2 separate regions of the Homo sapiens genome follow, and region 1 is linked to region 2. Evidence: fine-mapped expression QTL. Tissue or cell type: whole blood. Region 2 holds a variant in brackets; the other region holds the start of a gene. All regions are shown on one strand. Distances are from middle to middle. Region 1 holds the start of FOXRED2 (FAD dependent oxidoreductase domain containing 2). Region 2 overlaps FOXRED2 (FAD dependent oxidoreductase domain containing 2).

Region 1 (4,380 bases), 22 kb after region 2:
CTGTACCAGGCCCTGTACTAAGTGTATCTGTGCACCATCTTTCTGACTCCTCCAAGCAACCTGGAGGTGGTATGTGGCCTGCTTTACAGGTGAGGAGGCACAGGCCCTGCAGGCCCATGGCTTGAGAGCTCCTAAAAGCAGCAGAGCCAGAGTCTAAACACAGATAGGCTTGATTCCAAAGTCCTGCTCCTTCCATTGGTGAGGATCGCCATCCAGGGGAGGGCAGCTGGGGACTTGGATCCTGCCGGCTTGCAGAAGAATGCTTTGATCACAGAGTGGTTTCAAAAATAGAATTGAAGGCCGGGTGCGGTGGCTCATACCTGTAATCCCAGCATTTGGGGAGGCTGAGGTGGGTGGATCTCCTGAGGTCAGGAGTTCGAGACCAGCCTGGCCAACGTCGTGAAATCTCATCTCCACCAAAAATATAAAAAAATTAGCCGGGTGTGGTGGTGCTTGCCTGTAATCCCAGCTACTGGGGAGGCTGAGGCAGGAGAATCGCTTGAACTAGAGAGGCGGAGGTTGCAGTGAGCTGACCTCGTGCCATTGCACTCCAGCCTGGGCGACAGAGTGAGACTCCGTCTTAAAAAAAAAAAAAAGCGAAATACCCTTTTTCGTCCATTCCTCCCATACCTACTGGCCAATCAAGGTGTGTGGTTCGTGTGGGGAAGGTCCCAGCTTCCGCAGGTGAGCTCTGGCACCGGCCTTACCTGCACTGATGCACCTGGCCCTTCTGGTCAGTTAGGATGAAGTAGTGGCCATTCCAGGCCTGTCGGTCCTTGTCCAGAGTGACGTGGGCGATGGTGGTGTTGTACTGGACACGGAGCCCCAGCGTGTCCGCGAAGTCACCCAGGTAGCGCACCATGTCGCGGGCGTCGGGGAAGTAGGCACGCGAGTAGTGTCTGAAGAGCAGCCGGGGGTCGTGGCTGAGCAGAGAGTTCCAGTCGTGGCGGAGGTTGAACTCGGCGTTAGCCTTGCCCGTGTACCGCTTGTTGATGCTGATGAGCTTGCGGTGCCGCGGGTAGCGTGTGAAGAAGCTGCCGGGCCGCGGGGCCCGCTCGAACACTGCGTAGTCGCGTCCAGCGCGCTGCAGGAAGTAGGCCATCTGCAGGCCCGCGGGCCCAGCGCCCAGCACGCAGTAGTCCCGGCGCGGGGGCACCGACAGCGCTGGGTGCAGGGCGATGGCCAGGAGCAGCCCCGGGGGACCCCACAACGGGGCCGCAGCGGAGAGGCCCATCCTGCAGCAGATCAGAGGGGTAAGGCCTCGCACCCGGCCCGGCGGCTGGGAGACACGAGGCCCAGAAAGAGGCGGGGCCTGCGGGAACTCTCACTGCAATCTGGGTCACGGCCAGGCCCAGAAGCCGTCCTCAGAGCTCATTTGCCCGGACTCCACCGTTTCAAGCTGGGACTTGGGGCTCCCCGGAATCCCGAGCCCCTCCATCTTATCTCCCTCAGGGTCTCCTTCCTCAGGGGCACCGGCTCCCCGCTTATGATTGTAGTAACCTCCACCCTGGGGAAGGAGAGCGTACTCCCCAATTTTCCCCTAATTTGAGGGTGCCCAACACCCCTTTGAACCACCCTCCAGGTTGGACCTTCCAGAGGCCTTGGCCCCTCTCCAGCGACCGGGTGGGAGCCTGAAGTGGGTGTGGCCTGCGTGCGCCCCGCCCCCTGCCAGGGTCCGCGCGCCCCAGGCTCTTCGGCCACGTGACAGGGATGCCGCGCACACCTGCCGCCCGCCCGCGTGCGCTTCAGGAGCCGCCAGGTCCCTACGCCCGCAGCTCCGGCCTCCCCGCCTCCGACCGAACCCTGAGAAACGCGCGAACCTCCCAGCCGCTCCGGCTGCAACCCGTGGTCTAATGAGGCCGCGCTTGGCTCGCTTGCTCCGCGGCGGCTCCGCCCCTCGCGCCCGGACCAATGGCAGGGGGCGGGGTCACGTGCGCGGCGCGCGGCACGCCGGGACCAGCTGGCAGGCTGCCTGCTCCGGCCCAGCGCGGGAGAGGCGCGCGCGTGCTGCGTTCGCTGCTCCGGGGGCTGGTAGAGGGGCCTGGGGCTAGCGCGCACCCGCGAGGGTGGAAGGTCTGGAGATCCGGGATGGGGAACTGGGTCCTTCGTTTTAAAAGGTGCCTCTCTACACGGAGGGAGGGGAGCACGTGATTTTTGGAGCTAATCCTAGCTCTCATATTCCATGAATGTAGCCAAACGCTAAAACTAGTTGGCCTACCCAGTTTTGTGGGACTGGAAACCAGCGTGGTGGAGCCAGGACCGATAAGCCAATTAACAAGCGTTTGCTACAGTGACTCAGTGTACTGCTTACCAAGTAACATACACGACTGTCCTAATCTTCCACCAAATAGGAGAGGTGGGCAAGGCATTGTTTCCGACATTTGGTAGCTGACTGGTCAAATGGAGACATAGGGATGAAGGGATATGTTTACAATCACAGGAAGTGGAGCCTGGAATTAAAACTCAGTGGAGGCAAGATAAATGGCAGGAGGAAGATAACGTGAACTGGATGATGAAGGTTGGCTTCCCAGGGGTGGCAAGTGGCCCCTGCATGAGATTTACATGGGGAGAAATACGAAGTCAGTGTAGGAACCTTCAAAGTCCAGTGAAATGGGGCTGAGTGTTCTTGGGGGAAGGGCAGGTGGAAAGAACTGCGAGCCTGCAGATTTGCATGGCTGGAGATTCTTTGAATTAAAAATCGTAGCTGGGGACTCCTTAGAAAAATTTTCCTGACCTCTCAGGCCTACAAGTACCTACCAAAGAATGTCATTTACTTTTTCTTTTTTTTTTTTTTTTGAGATGGAGTCTCACTCTGTCGCCCAGGCTGGAGTGCAGTGGCGTGATCTCGGCTCACTGCAAGCTCCACCTCCCAGGTTCACGCCATTTTTCTGCCCCAGCCTCCCTAGTAGCTGGGACTACAGGTGCCCGCCACCACACCCGGCTAATTTTTTGTATTTTTAGTAGAGACAGGGTTTCACTGTGTTAGCCAGGATGGTCTCGATCTCCTGACCTCGTGATCCGCCCGCCTCGGCCTCCCAAAGTGCTGGGATTACAGGCGTGAGCCACCGCGCCTGGCCGAATGTCATTTACTTTCTTCAGTCTGTGTCAACATCAGAGAAAAGCTCCCTCAGAGCAGAAATTGTCCAGTATCTGACATACGGAAGTTTAAGCATTTGTTGAATAAGCATTGCAACCAGAGAGGTCAGGCAGAATACTTTGCCAAAAATAAAGTAGGGATGTCTTATTTCTTCTTTTTGAGACAGAGTCTCACTGTCACCCAGGCTGGAGTGCAGTGACACAATCATGGCTCACTGCAGCCCTGACCTTCCAGGCTCAAGCGATCCTGCTTCAGCCTCCCAAAGTGCTAGGGATTACAAGTGTGTGCCATGGCCCCTGGCCAATTTTTCAAAAAAATTTTTGGGGGCATATGTGTATATATTTATGGGGCATATGAGATGTTTTGATAGTCATGCAATTTGGGGATGTCTGTTTCTTAGTGGTTGTGAAGATTATGAGAATGGGTGCTGGCAAACAAGTTCCTAAAATAATTGCTGGTCTTATGTGGTGAATACAGTAGTGGGAAATTAAACAGAATTCGTCAAGTATGGTAGGGCCCTACGAGTAGGCTGAACCTAGATTGTAAGCAACAGGATGCTACTGGGAGTTTCTGAATGTAGGATTACTGCAGCAGTCAACTTGGTAGCCCCATGCAGGACAGATAAAAGCAGTGGACAGCTACTCGGGAGGCTGAGGCAGGAGAATGGCGTGAACCCAGGAGGCGGAGCTTACAGTGCCTGAGATTGCGCCACTGCACTCCAGCCTGGGCAACAGAGCAAGACTCCGTCTCAAAAAAAAAAAAAAAAAAAAAAAAGGCAGTGGAAACTGATGCAAAGTATTTTCAGGGAATGAGCTTGAGTCACTTCCACTTGCTTCTGTTAATCCTGTTGGACAGGGCCATGGTTTGCAAGAGGCAATTTGGTGAATACTGGTCCAACCTGGAAACCCCCGGCACTAGTCACACCACTTTAATCTGTTTTTTAACACTCTGTATTCACATTGAAAACTCCCCAAGTACACTTTTTCTCTCCACTGCTTCTAACACAGTTCAAGAAACCTTTTGCTTGCTGAGGTTCGATTCATTAAAATTAATTTTGTGTTTTTTCAAGCTACTTTAAAAAAAAAACCTGTAACTTTAGAAATGCTGAGCTTTTTTTGAGAGTCTCTGTAATCCAAATTGGAGTGCAGTGGTGTGATCTCAGTTCACTGCAACCTCCGCCTCCTGGGTTCGAGTGAATCTCCAGCCTCAGCCTCCCAAGTAGCTGGAATTACAGGCGTGTGCCACCATGCCTGGCTGTTTTGTATTTTTAGTAGAGACGGGGT
Region 2 (4,380 bases):
CTGGAATTACAGGCGTGAGCCACTGCACCCAGCCTTTTTTTTTTTTTTTTTGAGACGGAGTCTTGCTCTGTAGCTAGGCTGGAGTGCAGTGGCATGATCTTGGCTCACCGCAACCTCCACCTCCAGGGTTCAAGGGATTCTCCTGCCTCAGCCCCCCAAGTACTTGGGATTACAGGCGAGCACCACCACACCTGGCTAATTTTTTATATTTTTGGTACAGAAATTTTATATTTCACCATGTTGGCCAGGCTGGTCTCGAACTCCTGACCTTAAGTTATCGCTCGCCTCGGCTTCCCAAAGTGCTGGGATAACAGGCGTGAGCCACCGCGCCTGGCCGCCCTGCCCATTTTTGTATCGGTTTTCTGTGTCTCTAGCACTTTCTTTTCCACAGCCACCTATCAATCCTATTCAGCACTTCCACAGTATTTTCTAGAGAGCCAATTTTCCTGCCTAATTCACATTCTGAATTTCACAGGCGGACCAGTCCTGTTTGTCCTTATGCCATAGTCACTTCACCCTGATCGGCCTCAGGCTTCTCATCTGAGCAATGGGAAGAATGCCTTTCTCATAGCTGGGCTGAGGGTTGCAGTAGAGACAGAATCCACATCATTGCTGCCTGATGACTCCTGCAGGGAAAGCCTGAGAGACACAGAGAAGGCTGAGCTCTCGGCGCGCTACAAAAGGGCTCTCAGCTACATGGTGGCTCCTCTGTCCAGCTAGAGCTGAGCTGGCCTGGGTCTGGCTTAGTCACAAGCAGGCTCAGGGCACAGCTGAGAGGCAAAGGGAAGGAAGCCAGGACTGGCAGCCTGGGCTAAGGGTAAAACTTCTACCTCCTACCAATATTTATTGCAGTGTTTTTCAAACTGCAGGATATGGACGTCAGTGGGTTTGCAAAATTAATTTAGTGGGTGGTGATCTGCTTTTTAAAAAAACAAACATGGTGCCAGGCGTGGTGGCTCACACCTGTAATCCCAGCACTTTGGGAGGCCAAGGCGGGCAGTTCACTTGAGGTCAGGAGTTCGAGACCAGCCTGGCCAACATGGTGAAACCCCATCTCTACTAAAAATACAAAAATTAGCCAAGCGTGGTGGTACACGCCTGTAGCCCCAGCTACTCGGGAGGCTGGGCAGGAGAATGGCGTGAACCCGGGAGGCGGAGCTTGCAGTGAGCCGAGATAGTGCCACTGCACTCTGGCCTGGGCGAAAGAGCAAGACTCTGTCTCAAAAAAAAAAAAAAAAAAAATAGCTCTAAGGTCTTGCACTAACCGGTATGACCTGTCTGGCGTCTTTACAGGCAGTATTGGAATGTTATAGGGAGACATACAGGGTTTAAGAAATCCATCACGGAGAAGACCTTCAATTATCAATTATAGGTTTTAAATTTACCTCGGCTTTGAAAGGAATAGGATACATTGCTTTCTCTTTACTACTTCCCCAGGGGTTTGTAATTTAACATGAAACTGAGTAATCTGTAACTTTCCTCGATTCTCGTCTTTTGACCATACCTTGGGATGAATGAGTTCTTTGTCTGTGGTGGGGAGCAAGTTTAGGGAGGGGAGGAATCTTCCCTGATTAATATAGAGGCCTAAGCCAAATTTTAGCATTAAATCTCTCTAATAGGTTTGTTCCTGCCTCTGGAATAAACAGAAATTTAATATTAGCTGATTTGCTTTTATATATGACTTTTGTTCTTTTTCCCATTTGGGACATTTTCTTTTGAAGTGACCTATTTTTAATCTGAAACATTTATTTTGTCCTCTTTCTCTCCCTTTGCCTCTCCCTCTCTGCCTCTTTTTCTCTCTCACTCTTTCTCTTTGCCTCTCTCTCTGCCTCTCTCTTCCTCTTTGACTCTCTCCCTTTGCCTTTCTCTCTGCCTCTCTCTTTCCCTTTTTGCCTGTCTCTCTCTCTTTGACTCTGTCTGTTCTGTCAGTCTTTCTCTCTCCTCTAAGTTTTTTTTTTCTTTACTTTTGAGTCTCCTGGCTTTACTCTTTCATACTCTATATATTGCCTGGAGAGTGGGGGTCTAGGTTCTTTTTTTTTTTTTTTTTTTTTTTTTGAGACGGAGTCTCGCTCTGTCGCCCAGGCTGGAGTGTAGTGGCGCGATCTTGGCTCACTGCAACCTCCGCCTCCTGGGTTCACGCCATTCTCCTGCCTCAGCCTCCCGAGTAGCTGGGACTACAGGCGCCCACCACCATGCCCGGCTGCTTTTTTTTAGTAGAGACGGGGTTTCACCGTGTTAGCCAGGATGGTCTTGGTCTCCTGACCTCGTGATCCGCTCGCCTTGGCCTCCCAAAGTGCTGGGATTACAGGCGTGAGCCGCCGCGCCCAGCCCTCAGTCTAGGTTCTTTATAGGTTCTGGCCCCCTGGGTACTTTGTTGTATGGTAGACAGCAGAATTTTTGCCTTCTGCTTTTGTTTTTCATCATCTTTTCTTATATATACCTTTTGGGCTTCTCTTAGAAGCTCTTCTATAGGTTTATCTTTCCAGTTCTCTATCTTTTGTAATTTCTTGTTAATATCTGGCCAACTGTTAGTGACAAAATGAAGTTTTAACATTCCCTGCCCAAGAGGATCCTTGAGACCTAGACCAGTGTATTTTCTCATTTGTTCCTTTAATCTATCTAAAAATTCTATAGGCCCTTCATCTTTCCCTTGCTGTATATCAAATATTCGGGTAAGATACTGAGTTCGGGGTACCA[AT/A]TTTTTTTTTTTTTTTGAGATGGAGCCTTGCTCTGTTGCTCAGGCTAGAGTGCTGGAGTGCAGTGGCGTGATCTCGGCTCACTGCAAGCTCCGCCTTCTGGGTTCACGCCATTCTCCTGCCTCAGCCTCCTGAGTAGCTGGGACTAAAGGCGCCTGCCACTATGCCCAGCTAATTTTTTTGTATTTTTTAGTAGAGACGGGGTTTCACTGTGTTGGCCAGGATGGTCTCGATCTCCTGACCTTGTGATCTGCCTGCCTCGGCCTCCCAAAGTGCTGGGATTACAGGCGTGAGCCACTGCGCCCAGCCTCGGGGTACTGATGCTTTAATCCCCTTTATTATCAATTCCTTAAGGTCCTGCATATTTTCTCGGTGGGCTGCGTTGTTATTGTCCCACTGGGGGTCTTGGGTGGGAGTTTTTTGATCTGCTGTAGGAACGTTTTGGCCAGGAGGGTGTTCGTGTTCCTAGGCTCCCATAGCAGCTCTATGGATCATGTCTCTTTCTTCCCCCGAGAAGAGGGGAAAGGGAAATTCTGAATATCTTTTTTACATTGCTCTATCTCACGTTGAAGTCCTTTAAGGGAAAGGTACTTAGGTCGGTAGTGAGTGGGCTCTTGGGACGATTCTCAAGAGGCAGGGTTGTAAGAAAGGGGACATCAGAGATAGGAGAAGGGTCTGGGACAGCAGCTGCTTTTGTTTTTGGTCCTTTCATTATCCTTCTAACATTTTAACATTAGGCCTGGGGGAATATTACTGTTGCTAGCTTTCTCCTTTTTATCTCTTACCTTACTTGGGGCATTTCCCATCTTGGGTCCTGGTTAAGCTCAATCTCCCCTGTTGGAGATGTCTCGCCTATCCTTTAGCCCCACCTGCTGGAGGCTCCTTGCATTCATGCACACTTTCAACCCCCAGAATATCCTGACCACCAAGGAAATACTTTGTCACCCCTGCGATGTTTCTTAGCTTGGTCTCTGCACACTTACTTGGTCGCTGTGGTACATGAGGATCCTTTCCCCCAGGTCGCCAGCCCGTTTCTTTCTGCCTTGCTGAGAGTATAGGTTTATTCGTCACACTGGTTGGTCTCGATTCCTTACCCCTGTGGCCACCGCAACAAGGCAGTGGGACGTGCCTCCTCATGGGAGAGGTCTAGACCCTCCTCAGAGGAGGATGGGAATCCCAAATGAGACCCCAAATTTGTTAGAAATAAATTTTCAGTGCCACAAAAGAAATAGCACTCAAACATACATTTTCTCAGCAAGGCAATTTTACTTCTATACAAGAGTGCGTCTCATGGATGGTGCAATGGCGAGAGCACACCGGAACAAGGGAGGGGAATGGGTTCTTATCCCTGATGCAGGTACCCCCTACTGCTGTGTTGTTCCCCTATGGGCTAGGGTTGGACCGCACAATCTAAGCTAATTCTGACTGGCTATTTTAAAGAGAGCAGGGGTATAAGCCAGAGTGGTGGGGTGAGAAGTTTAGACAGGAAAGATGGTTACGGACCAGGTGACTAAAGGTGACTCAGGTCAGAGCAGGTGACAGAGGCTAGGAGGGGATTGTTTACTGAAACTAGGGGCAAGGAGACATAAAGAATGAGGAAATTAAAAGTTAAAATGAAGAACAAAGAACAGGTGAGCTGAACATACTGATACATTGGTTCTTTGGAGAGGATCTCAGAACTCAA

The links. PIP is the estimated chance that this variant, and not a neighbour inherited with it, causes the effect.
Region 1: FOXRED2 starts here. The variant in region 2 is fine-mapped to the expression of FOXRED2 in whole blood (INTERVAL, PIP above 0.99). The same link has a PIP of 0.9 or more in skeletal muscle.

Annotation. Positions count from the first base shown.
Region 1 is chr22:36,505,189-36,509,568 of GRCh38, forward strand. It overlaps FOXRED2 (FAD dependent oxidoreductase domain containing 2), which reads right to left and starts at 1,852. Exons shown (of 9, transcript NM_001102371.2): 1 at 1,821-1,852; 2 at 708-1,235. The coding sequence starts at 1,234. RefSeq lists a silencer at 1,599-2,098.
Region 2 is chr22:36,483,248-36,487,627 of GRCh38, forward strand. FOXRED2 (FAD dependent oxidoreductase domain containing 2) reads right to left here. Exons shown (of 9, transcript NM_001102371.2): 9 at 3,943-4,380. Among named protein-coding and RNA genes, the nearest start is that of TXN2, 3.8 kb to the left of the region's middle. The variant AT/A (reference allele first, on the strand shown) is at 2,698.